Regions from separate parts of the Homo sapiens genome. Here regions 2 and 3 are each linked to region 1. Evidence: fine-mapped expression QTL. A gene starts in region 1. Each other region holds a variant in brackets. All regions are shown on one strand. Distances are from middle to middle.

Region 1 (8,175 bases):
CATGAGAAGGTTCCAAGTCAGCCAGAACTGGGCTTTGGGAATCCGTTTGCTTCATTACCTTGTGTGTGTTCTACTATAGTTATAAACATCTTTGATGAATAGCCTTTATTAAGTAAGTTCTGTGACCCTGATTTACCATAATGTCCATTTGCAAAGTACTTTGTTGTTTGCAAATCTTTTGTCATTGGATATGTCATAATTTATTAAATATATTTGTGTTCTCACAAACCCCTGACTGCACCTAGTATCCATGCAGTCTAGTTTTCTACTTTTCAACCAGGATTTTGGATTTAAAATATCGGCTCTTCTCAGCTCAGAAGCCTAGAAGGGTTGGGGGCAGCATTGAGTGTGTTTTGGGGTTGGGCCTGGGACCAGGGGCCAGTTTTGCCTGGTAAGGCATCTGCCAAGAGGGCTGAACAGGGCCACCCTGGATCAGAGCATCCATTCATCAGGTGGAAGAGGGAAATGAATTTGTCAATCTTTGGATTTGCCTTTGACCTCTAGAGGGCTGCAACTGATGAAATGATGATGGGAAATTTGGCTGCCATCTATGACCATCTCCTTTTTTTTTTTTTTAAAGAGGGAGTCTCGCTCTGTCACCCAGGCTGGAGTGCAGTGGCGCGATCTTGGCTCCCTGCAACCTCTGCCTCCCAGGTTCAAGTGATTCTCGTGCCTCAGCCTCCTGAGTAGCTGGGACTACCAGCGCGCACCACCACGCCCGGCTATTTTTTGTATTTTTAGTAGAGATGGGGTTTCACCATGTTGGCCAGGCTGGTCTCGAACTCCTGAACTCAGGTGATCTACCCACCTCGGCCTCCCAAAGTGCTGGGATTACAGGTGTGAGCCACCACACCCGGCCTGACTAGCTCTTAGTTGTGGAATCGGTGACCCTTTAGACTGTCCAGGGAGATGGGAATAAGAATCTCTCACAACATTAGCAGTTTTTCCTCCTCCCTGCACCTCCCCCAAATCCTGTCCCCATCACTAGGTTATTTAATTTACTTATTTTGGGGGAAACAGGAGGGAAAACTAGCCCAGGTGGTGCGTGCTACTTCTTTGTATTCCATCTTAGACTAACAACAGGAAGCAGGCAGCAGAATTGCCCCACATTGGAACATCACTTGCGTTACTAATTTGTTGTTATTTACTACTTGTATTATAGGATTTAACTTTGACTTCCCAGCTAAGTTGTGAACTCTTTGGAGGGAAGCACCAATTGTGCCCACTTTTGTAGGGCCCACAGAACCCGAAATAGTGCTTAGACTTAGCAGATCCTTTGATTCTTAAATGACTTTTTTTTTCCTTTTTTTTTTTTTTTTTTTTAGCCAGGGTCTTCCTCTGTCACTCAGGCTGGAGTGCAGTGGTGCAATCATGACTCCCTGAAACCTCTGCCTCCAGGGCTCAAGTGATTCTCCCTCATCAGCCTCTCAAGTAACTGGGACTACAGGCAGGTGCCGCCGTGCCTGGCTAATTTTTGTATTTTTAGTAGAGACGGAGTTTCACACATTGCCCAGGCTGGTCTCGAACCCCTGGGCTCAAGTCATCCACCCACCTCAGCCTCCCAAAGTGCTGTGATTGCAGCCGTGAGCCACTGTGCCCAACCACGACTTTTTTTTTTTTTTTGAGACGGAGTCTCGCTCTGGAGCCACCAGGCTGGAGTACAGTGGCATGATCTCGGTTCACTGCAACCTCCATGTCCTGGGTTCAAGAGATTCTCCTGCCTCAGCCTCCCAAGTAGCTGGGACTACAGGCGTGTGCCACCATGCCCACCTAATTTTTGTATTTTTAGTAGAGATGGGGTTTCACCATGTTGGCCAGGATGGTCTCAATCTCTTGACCTCGTGATCCACCTGCCTCGGCCTCCCAAAGTGCTGGGATTACAGGCGTGAGCCACCGTGCCCAGCCACGACTTTTAATGAACTCATTTCCACACTAGAAAAGTTCCACAGCTGAGCCCCAGGGTGCCCTTCTGGATGTCAAATAAGCAGGGCAGGCAGGGTGTGCTGTGTCCCTGAGGGAGTTGGGCCCAGGCCAGCATGGAGGCTCTAGGCCTCAGGGGACATTTAGGCCTGAGTAGGGCCAACCCCAGCCCGGGACAGGTGGCTCTCGCTGGCAGGGTGACTGAGTCCCACATGCAGGGCTGGGGTGGAGAATGAATCCTCCGCCTTGGCATAGACCTTGGGCCAGCAGAGGGCTTTCATGCCAGAGTGGACTCATTCCCCGGCTGGAGCCTCTGGGCTGGCAGGAGGTGCTATGAGGCCACTCCCAGGCCCTGGTGTGGGGTCTCCAATTAAGAAGGGGGTGCGGGCAGGGTGCAGTGGTTCACACCTGTAATCCCAGCACTTTGGGAGGCCAAGGTGGGTGGATCATGAGGTCAGAAGATCGAGACCAGCCTGGCCAACATGGCGAAACCCCGTTTCTACTAAAAATACAAAAATTAGCTGGGCATGGTGGCATGTGCCTGTAATCCCAGCTACTCAGGAGGCTGAGGCAGGAGAATTGCTTGAACCCGGCAGGCAGAGGTTGCAGTGAGTCGAGATCGCGCCACTGCTCTCCAGCCTGGCGACAAAGTGAGACTCGGTCTCAAAAACAAAAAACAAAACAAAAAAGGGGGTGCTGCATCTCTGGTTTGGGGGAGGTCAGGACAGGCTCCCAGCCAGCAGAGCTTGTTGAGTCCTGGTGAGAGTGAGTTCTAGGCCCTGGTGTGGAGCCTCTGGCCCACAGGGGATGCTGGGTCCGGGATGATGCTAGGGTGGGGTGGGCGTCAGTTCCACGTCCTGGGGTGGAAAATCTGACCCAGGAGGGTTCTCTGTGTCTCTGGTGAGGGGGCAGGCCAGGCTCTTGGGCAACCGAGGACCCTGGGTTGGAGCTGTCAGTCCCAGGTCTGGAGCTGGTGACTCTGGTCCCACAGCAGAGGAATGCGGAGTCCCAGGCGGGGTCGGCCCCACACCCCAGGCCCCAGGCCCCGGCGTGGGGACTCCGGCTCGGCAGGGGGCGCTGCGTCTCGCGCGTCGCGCGGGAGGCTCGGGCGGCTCCGGGCCCACAGGGGGCGCTGTGGCGGCGCGGCGGGCGCCCGGCAGGTGGCGCTGTGGCCGTGGCCGCGGCCGAGGCCCGGCGGGCGGGCGGGCGGCGTCGCTGCGCTGCGGCCGGCTCGCGGGCCGGGGGAGCGGCGGCGGGCGCGCGGGAGGCGGAGCGGCGGCGGCGGGCGCGGCGGGAGCGGCTGGGCCCGGGCGGGCTGGAGCGCGGTCGCCGAGCGCAGGGCCGCGGCCGCGCGGAGCCCGCCATGCCGGCGCGGGTCTGAGGCGTGGCGAGCCAGGGCCGAGGCGAGCGGCGGGCGCGCCGCCCCTGTCGCCCCGCGGCGGCCCGGCCCGGGCCCGATGAGCGGCGGCCTCGGCCTCCGGCGCAGCCCGGAAATGTCCGGCAAGATCGAGAAAGCAGGTGAGGCGCGGGCGTGGGGCGGCTCCCTCCGGCCGGGCCCGGCCCTGGGGCTCCGCCGCTCCCCGGGCCGAGCGCGGGTCGCCCGGGATGTGCGGCCCTCCGTGCGCCGGGGCGGGGTGAAGCCACCGAGGCCTCGCCGGGGCGCCTGGCAGCTTCTCCTCCAGGCCCATTGCCTGCCGGGCGCGGGGGGAAGCGGCCGCTGCGGGGGCGCCAGGGGCCGGGCCGGGCGGGGCCCCTGCAACCCGGGGCCGGGCGCGCTAGCCGCTCCGCGGTCCCCGGGAACTTCCGAAAATGGCTCGAGCCCCAAGCAGGGGAAGAACAGCCCGGGCCGCGTGCTGCTGCGGCTGCAGCGATCGGTGCCCGGCCTGGGCTCGGCGCTAGGAGGGTGAACCCAGCTGAGCTGTAAAATGTGTCATTTCTAACGAGCTTCGAGTTTAACGAGAAGCGTCCACTTCGGTTGCTTCAAAGGAAGCAGGCTGGATGAGTGGGGGTATTTTGAGGAGGTAGTCAAGTTTCCCCTCCCCACCCCGATCAAGCTCAGCTCTGCAAGGAGGGCAGGTGGGGGACCGGTGGGTTGGAGTAGATGGTAAATCTTGATGCAGACCTCGTCTCTTTGTGTGTTCCTAGAAATCTGGGGGAGTTACCTTCCGAGTCCCTGGGTTTGCCTGTCCTGGAAATAGAGTCTCCAAAGATTCAATGACTGTCGAGCCTGTGGGGCCCCAGGCTTTATTAGCCTGCAGCACCTTGCAGGGCAAATGCGAATTCTTGGGTCTAAGGTGAAGTGGGCGGGTGCTCCTGGGCTCCTGTACTGGGAGCATGCCCTGTGGTCATAACCCCGGTAGCAGGTTAGCTTGGCGGCTGAATGAGGGAAAGCAGATTTTTAGGGAGCTGCAAAGGAGGTCTGTGGCTTTGATTGTGGAAGTTGCTTATGTTTCCTGGGTTGAATCTGGGATACTTCTGTGGGGTGCACCCCTGCAGCGGACCCACAAGGCAATATGACTTTTGCAGGCTGTGGTTGAAGCACAGAAGGACATTTTTGTAGGCTTTATTGAGGGTTTACTATATATCTAACTCTTAGCACCTAAAATGCATTGCTTCTTAAATTTTTGAAGCTAGTCTGTGGGAAAGAATATGGTCCCAGTTTTACAGGCTCAGAGAGGTTCAGTGAGTTCCGGCTGTCCAGACAGCAAGAGGGCGGCAGGCCCCTAGTATATTCATTCCTGGCCCTCTGACCAGAAGCCAGGGTGCTTTTCTCAGGGGCAGGGCGCTTGGGTTCAGGTGCCATTTCTTGAGTATTTTTCTCACTGAATTTGAGCCCCCACAGCCTTGCCGAGTGACCATGAGTCGCCATCCTGTACACCTGCTGCTCCAGAAATAACTTGGGTTCATCTGTGCAGCATTTCTCAGGAACTTCTTGTATAGTGTCTTGTCAGAACGGTACTGTTGGGAAACTTGGATAATTTATTTTAAAAAGAACATTCACTGAGTTCTTTTATAAGAACTTTATAATATATAAGATTATATTATATCTTTTTATATCTAATATAAGATTATATTATGTTTTATATCTTTATAATATAAGAATATTCTATGTTCATTGTCAAAACTTGGAAATCACAGAAAAGTAAAATGAACCGGATTGGAAATCATCTGTCAGCCAGGTACAGTGGCTCACGCCTGTAATCCCTGCATTTTGGAAGGCCAAGGCAGGAGGATCACTTGAGCCCAGGAGTTTGAAACAAGCCTGGGCAAAATGGCGAGACCTCATTGCTACTTTAAAAAAAATTTTTTTTTTTTTTTTTGAGACGGAGTCTTGCTCTGTTGCCCAGGCTGGAGTGCAGTGGTGCGATCTCGGCTCACTGCAAGCTCCGCCTCCTCCTGGGTTCACGCCATTCTCCTGCCTCAGCCTCCCGAGTAGCTGGGACTGCAGGCGCCTGCCACCACGCCTGGCAAATTTTTTTGTATTTTTAGTAGAGACAGGGTTTCACCGTGTTAGCCAATATGGTCTCGATCTCCTGACCTCGTGATCCGCCCACCTCGGCCTCCCAAAGTGTTGGGATTACATGCGTGAGCCACCGCGCTGGGCCTCTTTTTTTAAAAAAAGGAAAAAGTTGCCTGTCATCCCATGAGCTGCCCAAACCGCTGGGAATGAAATGACTCTTCATTTGAGTTCTCTGCTATTTGGGAGAAAGACCTGAGGCCAGTTCATTTCAGCATAGTTTGTCCTTGGGCCTTTTCTGGGCACCGCCTTCTGCTAGGGGGTTGTAGATGAAAGTGCCTGCTCCCAGAGAAGCTTGTCTAACCTAGCACAGTTTCTAAGCTACCCAGGCTGCCAGACCGAGCGACCGTGCTGCCATGGACACAGGTGAGAGAGGGGTGTCATGAGTGCGGGAATGAGGAAGACACTGGAGGGGACAGTGTTTGTGCTAGGCTCTGAAGAGAGGGCTGAGATATATACCTGGTGGAGACAGGGAGAAAGAGGAGAGAGGGGAAGGGGCTGACCAGGAGCTGCGGAAAGTGTGGGAGGAAGATGCATTTTGTGAGAAGCAGAAAAAGTAAGAGTTCTGAGATTGGCAAGACCAGGGTCAGGACCTCGCCTGCAGATTGGGGATTGCAGATGTGGAGCTGGCTGGAAGTCCAGCCTCCTTGCAGAAGGTCTTTTGCTGCAGTTCATAGGAATCATAGTGAAAGATTACAACTGCCAAGGAAGACTGGGGCGCGCCTGGAGTGAGGATGACCTTTCCTGGTGGTCTCTGCTGGCTATTCTCAGTGAACTTCCCTTTGCATTTAGACGACATTTTGTTAGATTTCTGTTGGAGTTTTTTTAATGGACTTCCCACTATTCAGTCTCCAGAGGAGTATTTGATTCAGAGGAGAGGCCCTTAGGTGAAGTGGTGGCAGAGCCTGACACCAGGCAAACAATTGTTGTGATTGGAGTTTTGCTGTTTTGTTATCTCAAAGCAACAGAAACGTTGCTTAAATATGTTCATAATCTCCTCTCCCTGAAAGTAGAAGAACCAGCGTTTTTAGTTCTCAGTGCTTAAGGCATCCAGGGTTTTTTGGGTAAACAGGAAACCCCTTCACATCCCGCATAGTGTGCAGCTCTGGCCTGTTCCTCATCCCGCCCCCTTGCATTGCCTGATACCTCCTTGGTGTGCAGGACTCTCCTTAACCCCTGGGGGAGATCTTTTGAGTCATTGCTGTTCTTTGGGACATTTTCTTTCTCATGCAGCAGTGCCTGGCTGGGGCAGGGCCTTGAGGGGTTCATCCATACCTATGTATATCCTCAGAGAATACACAAGGTCATAGGCCTCACATTTGGGGGTCCCAAGTGCCATGGGGAATCAAGACAGTCTGGGCCAGAGGGTGGCACAGGGACAACTTGCTGGGCTGGTGGGGGCCTGTCAAGTGAGGCCTGGTGGAGAAAGGTTGAATTTGGAGGGCCAGGAACAAGCTGGGATGCAGGGGAGGCTTTCTAAACTCTACAGTGCTTCTAGAGATGACGAGGAGGTAGGGAGTAGAAGAGAGCTGGACAGATTAGGGAGCTCCCAGGGTGAGCTTGTGGGCAGGCCTGCAGAGGAGAAGAGGCTCTTCCCTAGGAGCTCAGAGGGATTTGTTCTGGAAGACTGATGGGAGATGTATGCAGCTGTTTAGAGGCTGCTTTGGAGAACAAATGAACATGGTTCTGGTTGTGCAAGCAGTTACTGTGGTTCTTTTTGCTCATATATCTTCCAATAAAGACATTGAGCGAGGAGAGTTGATACCGTCATGTTTTTGGAGCTTAAGCACAGACTGGCAGCTGCGGGCTGGATTCAGTCCACAGATATGTTGGGTTGGATCCGCACGTGTTCTTGAGGAAAAAAACAAAAGAATTGATGGTCAATATTGAAAAATCAGGAAGTCACTCAAAAATCTCAAAAGCCTGGTTCCTGATTTCCTTGAAAAATGAGAATCTCTGGTAACTCTGAGCGCTTGTTCCTGCCTACAAGGCAGCTATGGGCAGGAGTCAGGTGGCGGACACTCCCACAGAGCCCCTCACCACTCCCACAGCCAGCCACACCTCCGACGGCCCACTTGGACTTTTGACATTTGCGTTTGCATCCCCTCCTCGGAGAAATGATTCATGTTTGTTTGTTTTTGTCTGGACTTTGAAACCTTTGCCCCATCCCTTCATTGACTCATTACTCCATCCCTCATTCATCAGGGATTGAGCACCGGCTCCATCAGGCTCCGTACAAGGCTCTGGGGACTCAGTGGTGAACTCAGCAGATGTCGTGCTGCCTGCCCTGAATACAGGCATCCTCTGTGTGTCACAGGGTGAGCAGGAAGGTGGCAAGAGATCAGACTTGCAGTGGGGAGGGATGGTCAGGAAACTCCTGTGCTCCTGTGACAAAATGGGACTTAAGGTGAGAGGCGGAGGATGGGTCCACTTAGCTGGGCACAGGCAGTGGGGTAGGGGACCAGTCTCCTGGGGTGGGAGCAGACCAAGGCCTCCTCAGCTGAAGGGAAGAAGGTCCTTGGACTGCATGTGTCAGTTTCAGTCACTCATTCCTTTCTTCCCTCCTTCAGTGGCTTCACTCATCGCCTGCCTCACGGAGCAACCTCCTGAGGGCCTGGAGTTGTTCTTGTTCTTGGGACACAGCAAAGATCCCGGCCTCCTGGGCCATACCTTCTAACTGGGCTGGCCATAAGTTAAGCAGTTTTGTATGTATGTTTTTAAAGTCCCTTTCCTTCCTC
Region 2 (8,175 bases), 140 kb after region 1:
GGGCTCAAGCGATCCTCCCACCTCAGCCTCCCAGATAGCTGGGACTACAGGCATGCAGTACCACGCCCAGCTGATTGTTTTAGTTTTTTGTAGAGACGAGGTCTCGCTATGTTGCCTAGGATGGTCACTAACTCCTGGCTTCAAGCGATCCTCCCACATCAGCCTCCCAAAGTGCTGGGCTTACAGGCATGAGCCACTGTACCTGGCCCTCTTCCTTTTTTTCTGATTCTCAAATAATACAAGCTCAGGATAGAAACTGTTGAAAAGCATAGAAAACTGCAAGAAAGCAAGAAAAATCACTAATAACCCCACCCTGCAAAGGCCTTCACATGTAGTTTGCCATTACTTCTTGATTGTTTGCACCTATATTATCTACCTTACAAATTACCCACGATAGCCTTGTCTTTTCTTTTTCAAATCCCAGGCCAACCTCCCTTGGTCTTGGCCTCTTTCAAGTTGATAGGGAGTGTAAAAGACACCCCCTCCACTTACAAACTTGTTATCAGGGACATTTCTAGACATATGTGTGCATGTGATGTTGCTAACAAGAATGTCTTGTATATCTTAATTTTTTGCAGCCAAGATCAGGAGCTGTTCATTGCATTTAGTCATTACAGCTCTTTAATGTCTTATAACTTTTTTTTTTTTTTTTTTTTTTTTGAGACGGAGTCTCACTCTGTCGCCCAGGCTAGAGTGCAGTGGCGCGATCTCGGCTCACTGCAACTTCCGCCTCCCGGGCTCAAGCGATTCTCCCGCCTCAGCTTCCCAAGTAGCTGGGACTACAGGCATGTGCCACCATGCCCGGCTAAGTTTTTATTTATTTATTTATTTTGTATTTTTAGTAGAGACGGGGTTTCACCATGTTAGCCAGGATGGTCTCAATCTCCCGACCTCATGATCCACCTGCCCCAGCCTCCCAAAGTGCTGGGATTACAGGCGTGAGCCATGATGCCTGGCCACATTTTTCAATATTAGCATAAACCAAACCTGACCAAGTGTAGAAATACGTAGTAGATTTCCCCAGTATGCACCTGTGAAATATGATGTGTAGGATCTGCAAATGGGCACTCCCACCTGCAACTTCACATTGACTTCCCCTTCTCTATGAAATGTTCCATGTGTTCAAGCTTTTCCTCCCTCCTTAGGTCAAGCTTTAGCCACCTCTGGGGTCTTTGGTGACCTTAGAGCAAGGGAGTGCCCACTTGTCATTATCAGGGCTCAGCATGAATGGTTGAAGAGGCAGTTAATAAAAATAGCAAAAGAAAGAAAAAGAAATGAGAAGGCATTGCATAGGGACCTGTTGAAGAGGGCCACCTGCCCAGCCTGCCTCCTGGCCACTCTTGTGCTCTCTGACTTGTCTCTCTGACTTGTCTGCCCAGACTGAGCTTTCCCCAGGTGTGAAGCCAGGAATGGTGTGGTTTCTAGGTTAATACCTGGGGCAGAGTGTGTGGGCCAAGCAAATGCAGCTCGTGGGTATGCCACTAGCTTCACTGGACCCCAAAGTATCGTCTTCAGAGTTCCAGATGGTTCTCGTGAAAGAGAAGGATGAACACTTTGACTGCTCAGAAATAATTATGGGATGTTGTCCCTCCATCAAGGCCAAACCACAGGGTGAACATTGACGAGATGTGGAGCAGGGATTTTCTCGAGACTGGGCAGGGCCCACTCTGACCCATCCATATTCTTTTACTGAAGGCACATTTTTTTTTTTCCCTTGAGACAGAGTCTCACTCTGTCACCTAGGCTGGAGTGCAGTGGTGCGATCTCGGCTCACTGCAACCTCCACCTCCTGGGTTCAAGTGATTCTCCTGCCCCAGCCTCCAAGTAGCTGGGTTACAGGCAAGCGCCACCACGCCCAGCTAGTTTTTGTATTTTTAGTAGAGACAGGGTTTCACCATGTTGGCCAGGCTGGTCTCGAACTCCTGACTTCAAGTGATCCACCCGCCTCGGCCTCCCAAAGTGCTGGAATTACAGGCGTGAGCCACCACGTTTGGCCTAAAGGCACATATTTTTACATCTCAGATACCTGGGGTTAAAATGTGACCTATGACCACAAGACGGGCCAGAATAAAATAGAGGAACATGGAAGAAAATGCCAGGGGAAAGCCAGGCATATCTGTAGGCCCAGCTTCCACTCTCCCCAGAACACCCTAAGCTGGGAGACTCATCTTGGACACCCCCGGCCGTCCCACCTTCCCCTTTGTGGGAAATGTTCTCTCCCATCCTTCAGCCGGCAACTTAGGCTCAGTACTGCAAGCCTCGGCTCACCCATCCCATTCCAGAAGCCTCCCGACCTTTAGACGAGGCCAGACCCCCTGGCTGTGCTCATGGTACCCTTCTGGGCTTCCCCTTTCTCTGTGCTACTGTGACCACTTGTTTTAAAATTCTGTCTCAAAAAAAAAAAAAAAAAAGACTGGGCACGGTGGCTCATGCTTATAATCTTAACACTTTGAGAGGCCAAAGCAGGAGAATCACATGAGTCAGGAGATCAAGACCAGCCTGAGCTACATAGTGAGACCTCATCCCTACAATGAACAGAATTATCCAGGCATGGTGGCTTGTGCCTGTAGTCCTCGCTACTTGGGAGACTAAGGTGGGAGGATGGCTTGAGCCCAGGAGGTCAGGGCTGCAGTGAGCCAAGATCGCACCACTGCACTCCAGCCTGGGCTACAGAGGGAGACTCTGTCTCAAAAAAAAAAACAAATAAGTGGCTGGGCACGGTGGCTCACACCTATAATCCCAGCACTTTGGGAAGCCGAATTGGGCAGATCACGAGGACAGGAGTTCGAGACCAGCCTGACCAACATAGTGAATCCCTGTCTCTACTAAAAATACAAAAATTAGCAGGACGTAGTGGCATGTGCCTGTAATCCCAGCTACTCAGGAGGCTGAGGCAGGAGAATCACTTGAACCCAGGAGGTGGAGGTTGTGATGAGCCAAGATTGCGCCACTGCACTCCAGCCTGGGTGACAGAGCGAGACTCCGTCTCAAAAAAAAAAAAAAAGCAAATAAATAAATTCTGTCTCCTGCTCGACTGAACCCTCAGGGACAAGAGGCTATGTCTGCTTGGTTCACAGCTCTTTCTTAGCGCCAAGCAAAGGGTCCCGTGGCAAGTCGGTCCTTGGAGAAGACTTGGGGAGCAGCCTCAAGAGCAATGCAGCTTTCTCTCCCATTCTGCTTGCCCCTTAGCTCCTCCTCTCCCTAAATGCTAACTGTGCGGTGGGCCTTGGCAGGGAGTGGCTGAGACCATCACTCAAACAGCTTAATGGAACCTTTTTATTTTCCCAGCGGAATCACTTCCGTGTACAGATGGAACATCCAGAGGCAGCAGCGACTGTCCTATGGCCACACAGCCAGTCAGTAGCAGAGCTGAGGATCCAGTCCATAGTGACGTAGCTGCCATCGGGGCAGGCATGTTCCGGGAGCGGTTTCGAGC[C/T]GTGCACACCGGCACTGCCTTGGCCTCCAGGCATCGGGAGCTGAGCCGGTTTGACACTTGCAACACAAACCACTTCTCCCCGCAGGGCCCCAAAGTCACCAGATGCTCTGGAGTCGGCTCAGTCGGAGGAGGAAGTGGACGAGCTGTCCCTCATTGACCACAACGAAATTATGTCCAGGCTGACGCTCAAGCAGGAGGTGAGAACTTCCCGGGCTGGGGCTTTGCAGCCTGGCCCCACAGAGGAGAGCAGGTGGGGCAGAGAAGAATGTGATCTTGTCATAAGCAGAACAACCCTAGGAGGCTTAGAGACCAAGTCTTTCAATGCCCCTGGTGAGCCTCTGGGCTGTGGGCTCTGGAGGGGTAGACTCCAGGGGAAGTGTGCTGTCTCCTTCTGATGCTTATAGAAAGTCATCTTACACAGGTCAAGTTCTGCAGCCTCTCTAGCTAAAGATGCCAGAACTCCTGAGGGTGTGGAGATGGAACCCCTGTAAATGCTCTGCAGACAGAGCCTGCATGTGGCCGGCCCTCACTAATGGGAAACTTTTTCTGTGGTTGAAAAAATAGCTCCACTGTAGCTTCAGTCTGGGAGACAGAGGCAGGGGAATGGCTTGAGTCCAGGCGTTCAAGACCAGCCTGGGCAACACAGCAAGACCCATCTCTAAAAAAAAAGAAAAGAAAATTCAGGCCTGGACACTGTGGATTCCCTGGTCCTGTGCCTTGCCTGCAGAACCTCGTTGGTGAAAAAGGGCCCAAACCTGTGAGAGTGGAGAGGAAGCAGGACAGAGAGTGCCCTGCCTCTCCCTCCTGCCGTGCAGTGCTAGAAGTACAAAGGAGCGGCTTCATAAAGCAGCCTTGGCCCGCACCAGGAGGCAACTGTTTTGGGGCTTCGATTTGATGACACATGGACAAAAGGGCAGATACTGCCCTTTGCGCACTCCCAGGCAAGGATGCGCTGGCTCTGGCCATGGCAGGGAGCAGCCCAGGAATGTGTCTGCGCCTTGGGCTGTCACACACAGGCAGGGCTGATGAGGGTACTCACACAGCTGGGCTCCTCTGCAGAGAGATCCTTGCCATAAATTTCTTCCTTAAAATCAGGTCAAAGGCATAGTTCCTACTCCTAGAGGTAAACCCAAGACAATCTCAGGCCTCTGGAGTCAGGAGGTAAAATACCAAAGCCTAAAAATAAAAAGGTGGGCTAGTCCCGGAGTGTGTACCGCAGCTGAGAGGGCTGGTTCCGTCCCTCCAGCGTTACAGAGCAAGGAGCATTGAGGGCCAGGGGCAGAAACAGGCCTGGGGGGTTGTCCTGGACCTCTGTTCCTGGCCCTAGTCACAGCTCTTTTTGGCTCTACGCTGGGTGGCCTCTGTTTGCCCACATGGAAGCAAGACTTGCTTCTTAAGAGGCAGGTGGGTTGGTGGCAGGTGTGCAGCGTCAGAAGTCATTGAATATTTCTGTCTGTAATGCTTTGCTCTCCTTTAAGGAAGGGCCCCACAGAAGAACCTTGTGCCAATGCAAGTAACTTCTACTTCCACCTGGGGAGACGGATTTAGATGTAGGGCCGCTTGCTGCAGTTTTGGGGAACATGAACATGCTTAGAAATAGTCCTGCTGCCTCCACAGGCATCCTGGGCAAGGCTGGGGACTGTCTTGCCCCCAGGGGGTCCTACCTCACCTCTGACTTGTGGTTTGGTGAGCAAGGAAGGATGGAAGGTGCTATGTCCCCTGGCCCAAGTTGTGTGCTCAAAACAGTGGCATGCCCTGGTGCCTTGGTGCCGGGGCAGCTCCCAGGCCATCCAGCTCCCAGACACAGTCCAGTTTGTGCCTGTCACCAAGCACAAGGTGAGTCTGGAGGGCACCCCTGGCTTCGCAGCGCAGCCACACTGCTCCTGGGCCGAGGAGCACAGAAGGAGAGGGGACTTGGGGTTGCAGGGCATTTTGTCATCTCATTCCTGCCTGTTTCTTCCTAAACTGATTCTCTGAAGGGCATACTCTGCCTCATACCTTCCTTGGCTGTGTTCATTACAGGGTGATGACGGGCCGGACGTCCGCGGAGGATCTGGGGACATCTTACTGGTCCATGCTACTGAGACTGACAGGAAAGGTAGGGTGTCAGTGAGCTCACTAGATTGGGGCTGGTCCTGCCCCGGGTGCCACTCGGCCTCCCACCGCTATCCTGTCCCCTCCTGGCAGCCACAGCCCTGAGCAGGTCTGATCAGCAGTCCTGGTGCGCCTGAGTCAGAGCAGGGAGAGCCCACCTTGGAAGACAAGTAGATCATGTTCAACTCCAGGCGTGCGTGGCATCTGTCCTCCGCTGGTACAAGGTAGTGACCCCAGGGCCTCCAGGGTCCTTGAGGGGCTCAGCGCATACTAAGCGCACCACAGACAGCGCCTTGAGTGATGGCATGTCACCCAGTAGTACTAAACTTAAGATAACATGCAGGTACCTTTTGATTCCTTTCCTGACTGCTGAGTCACTCTATTGTTGCAGACCATTAGACCGGACTTCACTCACATACTCCACGAGGAAATTCTTGAAGGTTTGTTCTGTCCAGGAACCTTCAATTCTGTAGCAGTGGCCTCAGTTTCACAGCACACAGCTGCCCCACCCTACCACGCATTCAGTGTGCTGATTGAGAGGGCTGGAAAAGCAGGGACCGTCCCCTAATCCCTAAAACGTCTTGTTGGGTGGACTCTGCTAGCAAAGTCATTCCCAGTCATGCTCTGGAAAGGAGGTGCTAGTGACCTGATGGGGCATGGCCACAGCACCCTTCACTGCCTGCCCTCAAGGGGCCAGCACCACCTGGCCGGCCAGTCTCTCCACACGCTGCTTCTCTTTTTACGTTTAAAAAAATGATTTAAAAGATGATGTCAGAGCAATGGTGAAGTAAATTGTGGAGGGAATGAAAACACCCCCACCTTGAAATCCTAGCCCAACCCGTTTCATTTCTGTAAGGGACTCTGTCCCTGTGTTTCCTCAGCACGTTTCCCAAAACATGTGACCCAGAGTGACTCGGGGAATTTCTGAATTATGGAAGTAGTACTAAAAAATATTTACATTGCAGAAAATTAGAGAAAAAGAAGAGATGGCTCCCACAAACTCACCGCAGCCACTGCTCCGCCCTCCCCTTCACTGTTCCCTCACCCTTTGTTTGTTCTGACCAGGGCAGGGCCCAGACCTGGCGATGCTGCATCCTAGCCCCAGCTGTGCCATGACAGGCTCAGAGGGCCCCTGGGCAGTCCCCGGGCTTCTCGGCCTGAGCCGACTCCACTTGTTGAAGGGGTGAACGGTGCCTGTTGTTGTGTGGATTACGTGAGGGAGTGTGAAACCTGCCCCGCATGTCAGCGGTGCTGGGGGCGTGATCAGCAGCATCCTGAGCGCCGAGTGCAGCCCTTGCTTGGCTTCTCTGCAGTGAATCCCCCTCCCTGCCTGACATAGGGGGCTCCATACTCAGCCAGGCATGGGAGCGACTTTCATTTCCTTTTTGTCCACAGCGAGGGGCTGAAATGGGAGCTGGCTTCAGACCTCGGCTCCAAAGGGTGAACTCCACTGTCCTGTCGGGTACAGCCAGCTGTGGCCAAGGCTGGAGGGGTCCCTGAGACAGGACAGCCAAGAGGCTTCTGGCTTTTGCTGGCTGGACCTGCTGAGAGGACGCTCCGTGCCGGTGGGAGCTTTGCCTGATTTTACTAGCAGAAGGGTTGGAGGCTCCCCAGAACCAAAGTTTTACGTAGGAAGTATTACTGAGGCAGAAGCCATGGCTCCACTGGGAGGGTGAAGCACCCTGTGGCAGGTAACAAAGCAAGCTCCTTGGGCAGGTGCATCCTGCAAGCCAGAGACTGCACCAGCATCACGAGCAGCTGGGAGCCCCGTGGCTCAGGCCCGTGGAGCCCAGCCTGCCAAGCAGGGCTTGGCAGGGAGAGGCCGTGTGGGGGTGCTTTGTGGTTGCACGGCTCTGCTCTCAGGTGTCAGGACCTGCATGGGAGAAGGTCAGGTCAGCCTTGGCCTCAGGCCTCAGCTTAGATCCTGTCTATCCCTTGACAACTGTGTGCCAAGCCTGTCACTTAGCCCCGGAGCTTCCGATTCCTTAGGAGGAAAATGAGGGACAATTTCGGGGCCTTTTAGGGCTGTCTCAAAGACCAGGTGAGCCAGGGCGCACAGAGTGCTCAGGACCGCATCGAGAGTCCTGTGATCTCTAGAGGGGTGGCACAGCACTGCCCGTCCCAGAAGCCAGGCGCTGTCCCATCTGCCATAATCCAGGGCACAGCAGATGGGGGAGGGCTCTGGAATTGGGCAGACATGGGCGCCGACCCCGCCACATTGCTTGCGGGTGGTGTGGCCTCGTGCCTGGGCTCCTCCTCTCTCGGTAGGGTAACAGGACTCTGTCCTTGTGGGATTGCTCTGGGCATTGAAGGATGTGGCATATGTTCAAGGCATGGCCCAGTGCTCACCAGCGAGTCCCACGAAGTTGTCATGGCTACTGGCAATGATGCACCCGCAAAGGCCAGTTGACTTGGGCCCCTTCTTCCAGAAGCAGGTATGGGTCTATGCTGGTGCCATCTCTGCTTCCTTCCCCAAACTCTTTGAACAAAAATCCAAGCTTGACAGTGAACTGGGTGGGTGTGGGGGCCGAGGAATGAGCCTGAGCACAGTGCGGATGGGCCCTGCTGTGATTCCCAGCCCGGAGCCTCCTTCACCTGCCAGCCCCACCCCACGCAGCCCCCAGTGCAAGAGCAGGCGTGGGTTT
Region 3 (8,175 bases), 44 kb after region 1:
CATGATGCTGACTGGGTCAAATCCCTTGAGGACCAAGACTTGGCCTTGGCATTCAGTAACATAGTGGTCACTGGAGACCTTGACAAGAGGTGTCAGTGGGGCCAGGCGCAGTGCCTCATGCCTGTAATCCCAGCACTTTGGGAGGCCGAGGCGGGCGGATCACCTAAGGTCGGGAGTTTGAGACCAGCTTGACCAACATGGAGAAACCCTGTCTTTAGTAAAAATACAAAATTAGCCAGGCATGGTGGCACATGCCTGTAATCCCTGCTATTCAGGAGGCTGAGGCAGGAGAATCACTTGAACCTGGGAAGCAGAGGTTGCAGTGAGCCAAGATCACGCCATTGCACTCCAGCCTGGGCAACAAGAGCAAAACTGCACCTCAGAAAAAAAAAAAAAAAAAAAAGTGTCAGTGGAGTGTTGGGTGTGAAAGTGTCAAAGAATGAGCAGAGGAGAATTGGCCACAGGGAGCATGGGCGTTCTTGGAGTTTTGCTGAAAGCGGGAGTGAAGACACAAGGTGGTAGTTGTTAAGGGTATTGCGGTCAAGGGAAAGTTTTTTCATAAAGGGTGAAATAATGGCAAGGTTGAATGCTGATGGGAATGACCTGGTAGAGATGGAAACATCGCTCAAGACCAGGAGAATTGCCGGACGAGAGAGAAGTCCTGATTATCAGCTGTGGTGCATTGAGTATTTACAGTCCTTGCTGACAAATCACCCCGCTATTTAGGGAGCTTAAATAACAACTGGGCACCTAGTTTACACTTCTGCAGCTGGCAGTTCAGGCTGGGCTGCTGGGCTCCTGGTCTTGCCTAGGGTTCCTCAAGTGTCTACAATCAGCTGCTGGGAGGGCTTATCCCTGGGCCTCCAGCAGGCTAGCCCAGGGTCCCTCCCGTAGTGGGGTTGCTCACCTGGTCGGGGAAGGGGGGCAGCCCTGAGGCCCCAGGTCAGAAGCCGCACAGTTACCTCTACTTTATTTCATTGGCTAAAGCAGGCCACAGGCCAGCCCAGATTCAAGGGGAAGGGAGAGAGAGACCTGCCCCCTCCTTCTACCCGCCCTTCTAACAGGAGAGTGCAAAGTCATCTTGCCAAGCTGTGGGTATGAGGAGCAGGGAATCGTTTGGCCATTACTGCAAACAATTTGTCACAGCTGTCTGTGAGCTAAGCATGTTGCTTTCAATCATCACAAGAGTTCTTTGGGGTAGGTAGTATGATTGTGATTTTACAGATGAGAAAACCAGGTCACTGAGCATCCAGTAACTTGCTCAAGATCATGCAGCTAGTAAGTGGCAGAATTGGGACCTAAACTGGTCTCTGACGTCAAAGCCCCTTTCTTCCCTATTTTCCCTTCCTGCAAGTGTCTGTTTACAAGGGCAGACTAGAGGGCCCCTCCTCCCTTTGCTTGTTAGGCATGGGAATAATATTTTTGTGGATGATGATTATCTCATAATCAGGGTGGACTGAGGGAGGTGATCATCTTGTTGTGGCTTGCATGTTTACTGTGCGGGGATTGGACAGCTGTATTTATGAGAATCCCTTTGAGGTCACAGTGGTGTGTTATTGACACAGATTCATGTCTCTGCTCTCAGCTGGTCCCTCAGTGCCCTTTGACAGTCTTTGCCCTTGTCCTTGGTCAGCTGACTCTCCTGTCCAGATAGTCACACATGTTCCCCTTCACGCCCCACTTTGTTCCAGGCCTCTGACTTCCTCTGTCTGCCTTTATCCTGGCCCCTCTCTTTCTGGCCCTGACACAGGTACACTCAGCCTCTAGTCCAGGTTCCCTCTGCCCAGGTCCTCTTCCCTCCAGAACTTGTCATCATCAACTGTCTTTTCAACCAACTGGACTTCAAGCTTTCCAAGAGCAGAATCCAAAATGTGGGAAAATTTGAATTAGCATCAGTGAACTTTGTCTCTGACACTGGCTGTATAGTCTTGAGCAAGTCCTGTACCCTCAGGTGCAAGAATCTGGGAAGAGTGGACACTTTGAGCCATCTCCAAGGCCATTCAGGGAGAGTGAGATCTCTTTATGTCCGCCTAGGAAACCCGTGGCCTAGAGCTCAGTTCTGTTCTGTTGCAGTGGCTGCAGTGTGTCCTGGGTGTATACCTGACAGCCCTGCATTTTGCTGCAAGAGCTGCAGCCTTCTCTCTGCCCTCTCCTAATTCAAGCGTCAAAACCTTGTTGGCCCCAGAGCTAGAGCCGCTGCAAGCCACTTCGCTCATTTAGGAAAGCAGGAGGCAGGTCCTGTGCTGAGTCTGCAATCTCAGCAAAGACCTCAGTGAAAATGTTTTCAAGCTCTCTTTGGATAGAGGGAGCAGAGCAGTGAGTAATTAGGTTCAATCACCCATTTCAAGTCTCTGTGACCTTGCTTACATAGGGAGCCCGGAGCTGGGCCCTTCTTGGAGTCCCTGGGTTGGGATCCCAGCCAGCTGAGTGTGAGGAAGGGAGGGAGCGAGAAGGGATGGAGGAGAAGCCTGGGCCAGCAGAGGGCTGCTGTCTCTGCTGCGCTTTCAGCAAGCTCATCTCAGGCATGACATTCAGGATGCAGAGTTGCTCTTTATTTTTTTATGTAGTTTGCTAAGAGAAAATAGCCCCGCTACTTATGTATCAGTGTAATCCAGGGGAAATTACTTAATTTCCGTCAGCCTCAATTTGCTCATCTGTAAAATGAAGGCAACTAATTACACCTGCCTTAGCATATGAGGCGTGAATACGAGAATGCTTGACAATACTTGGCATAGAGTTAGCCCTCGATAAATTTCAGCTGTTAATGTTATTATAGCACCTTCACATGTTGTTGTGTTTATATTGTAAATCGTTGGTTAAAGATATTTTTATTGTCATGATAGCTCCATACTTTCAAGATGCGTCTTTGTAGTATTTCGTATCCATTTAGTCATTCATTCACTGAGTTTGTATTTATCAGACACCTACTTATGGACAAGGAACTGTTGATTATTATCTTTCTGTTCAGGTTATGATGAGCTGTTCATTTCTTAGTGCTTGCCACTATAATATTCAGAGCTACAGTTCGCTGAGCACCTGTTTCAATAGAGTTGCTCACTTGGGAGATAGATTCTAAAGTCCGAGCATAAAGAGAACATGGCACAGAGGAAGAATTAGCCTTGAAAGATCCCTTAAATCATCTGTAAAGTACAGTGTACATCGGAGGTCATCAGACTTTTTCTATAAAGACCATATAGTAAATATTTTAAGCTTTGCAGGCCACCTGTGGTCTCTGTCACATATGCTGCTTTATTTTCCTTTTTAAGGAAAGCCCTTTAAGATGTAAAAACCTTTTGTTAGCTCTGGGCCCTTAAAAAATAGGTCTTTGTCTACATGAGCAGACTGTGGTATGTCTTCTCCAGGATGGTCCGGGGATCCCCGCCTCCTGGTATTCACACTCAGGTGTCATCCCCTCCCTCTCTGGATCAGGGCTGGTCCTATGACCAGTAGAATACAGCAGAAGTCATACAAGATGTTGTAGCTTCCGCCAGCCTGTCTCTCTTGGATCCCCTGCTCTGGGGGGAGACCAGCTGTCCTGTGGTGAGGCGAGGTCACAGGTGAGGGTCTGTGGCTCTGGCCAGCAGCCCACAGGGAAGGGAAGCAGCTCTTCCAGCCCCAGTCAGGCCTCAGGTGACTGCAGCTTCATGAGACATCTTCCTGAGCCAGAACTATCCAGCTTGTGTCAGCCACTCTGCCTTTCAGGTCATTATAAAATCTGCAGCAGGGAACGGGGTGCGGTGAGGAGTTCTAAAGAATGCCTGCTTGCCTGCAGAGTTACATTGATTTTTTTATTAAATGTTTGCTGGTTACACTTGTCAACAAATCTGTTTATGGAGAGGATGAGATGGGAACATGTCATTCATGGGTGTTCTTATTATCATGCATTTCTTGGAGTTTCCATCATTCCAACCAGAGAGAGAACATTTACCATTCAGCAGATGGCTGCATATGGACAGTTAAGTTTCCTGAGGGAGTGATGCACCTCTTCTGGGTGAGCCAGACATTGAGGTACACCACTCAGTCCTGGCAGCAGCCCCCACTAAGGTTAGGATTGGCAGCTAAACGTCTAGCTTGATCCAACTCGCTCCTGATGCCCCTGCTTCCACTGATACCCAGTGTGGCCTCTGCTGTAACACAGCAGTGCGCTTGCAATCTGGGGAGAGCTTTTGCTTCCACACTGAATAGCTTCAGATGGCTTTGCTCTTTTTCGGTTGTGCCAAGAGGCCCTTCTACACTAAATGGCTCATCCATGGGTAGCTACCATTGACCTCTATCGTGTGGCCTGCTTTGGGAAGACAAGCCGGGTCAATTGGTTCTGCCTCAGGAATTTGAAACCGGACACAGGGAAGCATTCTAATCATTGGCGGGGATTTGAGCTAAAGAATCTACAGAATTGGAACCAGGCAGTCCCTGTGTGCTTCCGAATTATGAGAGAGTGGTAACTCAGAAGAAGCACGTTCATGCATTTATCTAATGAACATTGATTAGACATGTGCTGCATGCCAGGCATTGTTTTAGCCACTTGGGTTACAGATATCCTCATGAAACCTATATTGCTAGTAGGTGAAAATACACAATAGACAGTCAACATTATCCGTTAGTGAGTTGCATGTAAAGAAAGTGCGTGAACAATGAGAACACATGGACACAGGAAGGGGAACATCACACACGGGGGCCTGTTGTGGGTGGGGGGAGGGGGAAGGGATAGCATTAGGAGATATACCTAATGTTAAATGACGAGTTAATGGGTGCAGCACACCAACATGGCACATGTATACAAATGTAACTAACCTGCACGTTGTGCACATGTACCCTAAAACTTAAAGTATAAAAAAAAAAAAAAAA[G/AG]AAAGTGTGAAGGTGATGAGTGCTGTAGGAAGGAGGATAAGGGGGCATCAGGAATTCCAGGGATCATGGGGTCAGGTTGCAGAGCTAAAGAGAGTGTCCGGGGTGGCCTCATTGAAAGGTGATATCTGCGTCCAGTCTTGAGAAGGTGAAGCAGTTGGCCAAGCAGATAAACCTGGGGCACAGGCATGCCAGGCAGGGGGACCTGGTAGGTATTGAAGGAACAGCACGAATCTAGTGTGACTGCAGCAGAGTGAGCGAGAGCGTGCCAGCCTTGGGTTCATTGCAAGATTACATTTCTGTTTCATTTTAACAAACCTTTGAGCACCTACTCTGTGTCAAGTAGTATTTGGCACAAAGCTTTTCAAACCTGGGTTCCCCATCTGAACCATACAACACAGAACTCTGTGACTATTTGTTCAGCTCTTCAGCTCTTCCAGGAGTGTGACACAGCTGATGCTTTCTGGATGCTTGGGAGAGAAGTTCATTCAGTACATCTAATGCATGCCCTAGGGTATTAGGCCTCATTCTCTGCTGGAACCCTGACTGAAAAAGGCAGAATTCCTCTGCCCCCAGCCCTTGCCCTGTAATTACAGACTAGTAAATACTATGAAAGATCAGAGCTAGGATCTGAAGGGTAAGTCAGAGTAAAGTAGGTGAAATGTGAGGTGGGCCCTTGGGGAGGGAGAGGATACTGTCTAGGTGAGAAAACAGTGGGCAGAGACCTGAGGCAGAGGTGGGAGAGGGGGTGAGATGGATTTTGTAGGGCCTGTCACAGCCTTGAGTTTAAGAACACTTAAACTCAGTCTCAAGCTAAATAGCCATTAAGTGTTTGGAGAGAGAGAGAGAGAGAGAAACTGATTGAGAGGATACGAGATTTGTGCTTTGAAAAATTGATGAGATTGCCCTGGCTGCAGTGGGAGAAAGCCTTGGAATGGCAAGAATGGAATTCTTAAGCTGCCTTGTATTTGCAGGCAGATAAGGGTGGTGGCAGTGGGACAGATTCCCTGGATATAATGGAAACTCCAAGAGGACTTGGGAATGGATGGGATCTGGGGTTTGGAAAGGTATTGTCAAAAGACAACATTACAACAATGTAAAGACCTGAATTGGCTTTTACTTGTGATTCCAGAATTGAGAAACACTTGAATAGAATTGAGTGTTCTGATGGGCCAAGCAGAGGAGGTTGGTTTTATAGAAAGAAAAGGACTGAGGAAAGCAGAAACAGAAAATAAAAAGCAGATTGGTTGTTTCAGAGTTACTTTTCTTATAAAGGTTAAAGCAGAGGGGACTTTCTTATCATGCCAGCTACAACTGGCCTGTTTGGGGATTTGGCTATTCTCTCTCTCTCCTGATTTCTCTGAAGGTCAGATAAAAATCTTATTTTGGCTTAGTGGTATGGAACTTGAGCGTGAGTGACACCATTTTGGTTTGGTCTATTGGGCATATTGCAGGAGCTCAGTTCAAACCAATGACCTCCTATAAATTTAATTTAACAATTTCTCCCTTTTTGTCATGCTCTCACCTAGGAGACAGTGTGACCAAAACTTAGGGCATCAGCACTACTCCGTCATCATTATTTTGGGGTTTAAATCTTAACACGTCATTCATGGGTGTCCTCATTATCATGCATTTCTTGGAGTTTCCATTATTCCAGCCAGAGAGAGAACATTTACCATTCAGCAGATGGCTGCATATGCACATTTAAGACTTTTTTGAGAGGATACAGTGCACCAGGGAGACTACTGTTGTGGCTAATGACTATGAGGATGATAATACCAAGAGTTTGGAGTATGCCCCTTAGCCAGGGTCCCCATGAACCAAACCAACTGAAATCATTTAGATCAAATAATGAGCCAGATGGGGAATCTACCTGTTTTAGCCAAGCAGCCTGTTTGTTCGGTTTATCCATGTGCAACAAGAAGCATTAGCAACTGTGCAGATTATTTCCTGTTCGGCTAGAAGGTGGCATTTCTGTTACCTACCATCCCATGACTAGGTTTGGCATGACAGATCCGTTTTTTCATCAAGTCTCTGTAGAAGCTACTGATTGTGCAATTCCGGCAATGTAGCATTATCCTGCCAAGTGAAAAAGGTAGGCATAAGCAAGGAAAAATCAAGAGGAGTCAGAGCCTCATTATGATAAAGAATCTTGTTCTGATGTCTTGGGAAAAGCTGTCCACAGCATGAAGTTGTCAGCTTGTCCTGGTTTGCAGTTTGACTGCCTGTGATTATAACGTCCGGTGTTTGGGTGAACTCTCTGTGGCCCACATATCAGGTATGAGACCTGTCCCTCATAATATACATGGAGTTGTCAAGCTCCAGCTTGTAGGGCTTCTGGGACAGAGCAGTTCTTGTGTGTATTTGGAGAGTTGTAGCCAGATGTTTCCAAATAGGAAAGTAGAAGAATTCTGGATCCGTTCCAGCCTACAAATAGTAAAAACTCAAAAACAACGAACAGGGCTACAATCTAATAACAGGTGTACTATAGTTTTTCTTCTGAAACATAGTTTTTCTCTCTACAGTCACCCTCATTTCTACTAAAGATAAAGCGAGGTGAATTTTTTTGCAAAATGAGCTTAGTCTCGTCAAACTTGGCCTGATTATTTACACAACTGCAGTAATGCTAGTGATTGATCACAAAGTTTGCTTTGCTGGAACTTTGGATAAGAAATCTCAGATTGGACTTTTAAAGGACTCTCAAAGCTAGGAAGCCAAACTGATATTTCCAACTATATTCTGTTATGAGAGCAGACTCATATTGAACTTAATGGAAATAACTATATTAGCACAAAGATAAGAAGAGTCACAAATAATTTCCGAATTCTGGAGATATTAGGTAGGGAGAAAACATAAATATTTCGTTTTTGTTCATAAGAGTATAACTTTACCAAATTACTGAAAGCTAATATAAGGAAAAAGGTGTTTTTTTTAATCTGAGAAATAAAACACCAGCAATATGTCAAATTAAAAACCATAAAACCCACAATTGTTATTTATCATTTTATTCTGTCTCATGTAATTAATTTTTGTTCTGCTTGATCTTGGTCAGTAGTTTCACAAGCCCATCAGTTTCTTTATTAGAGTTCTGGAAATGTTTAGCCAGTCCAATGGTATGATCTTAAAGTTATTAGAGACCTCTTCTTGTCAAAGTCCTTTCCATCCTTTCCATGAATCTCCTTGAAAACACAACATTTTAGGATTATAGTTGCTTGCAAAAAGCATTGAGAAAAGCATCAGAATAAAGCAAATTAACTGTGGATAACAGGACTTAAAGCGACCATGATTAGAGATCTGATGAGGGTTCATTATAATAATGATTCAGTTGACAAG

Alleles and levels. Positions count from the first base shown, and alleles are read on the strand shown. Sizes are in standard deviations (SD) of each study's normalised expression. Not every link is listed here.
As copies of AG replace G in region 3, the expression in Th2 cells of the gene that starts at base 3,132 in region 1 goes down (small effect, 0.36 SD a copy in Schmiedel 2018).

What was found.
Region 2: its variant is fine-mapped to the expression of RAPGEF1 in whole blood (INTERVAL, PIP 0.99).
Region 3: its variant is fine-mapped to the expression of RAPGEF1 in Th2 cells (Schmiedel 2018, PIP 0.95).

Annotation. Positions count from the first base shown.
Region 1 is chr9:131,735,033-131,743,207 of GRCh38, reverse strand. It overlaps RAPGEF1 (Rap guanine nucleotide exchange factor 1), which reads left to right and starts at 3,132. Exons shown (of 27, transcript NM_001377935.1): 1 at 3,132-3,438. The coding sequence starts at 3,378. RefSeq lists silencers at 2,909-3,168, 3,319-3,368, 3,419-3,748, 7,392-7,686 and enhancers at 7,392-7,686, 7,983-8,112.
Region 2 is chr9:131,593,657-131,601,831 of GRCh38, reverse strand. RAPGEF1 (Rap guanine nucleotide exchange factor 1) reads left to right here. Exons shown (of 27, transcript NM_001377935.1): 16 at 3,522-3,633; 17 at 5,459-5,534. Among named protein-coding and RNA genes, the nearest start is that of PRRT1B, 52 kb to the right of the region's middle. The variant C/T (reference allele first, on the strand shown) is at 3,437.
Region 3 is chr9:131,691,468-131,699,642 of GRCh38, reverse strand. The region is part of intron 1 of RAPGEF1 (Rap guanine nucleotide exchange factor 1); the gene reads left to right. Among named protein-coding and RNA genes, the nearest start is that of RAPGEF1, 45 kb to the left of the region's middle. The variant G/AG (reference allele first, on the strand shown) is at 4,846.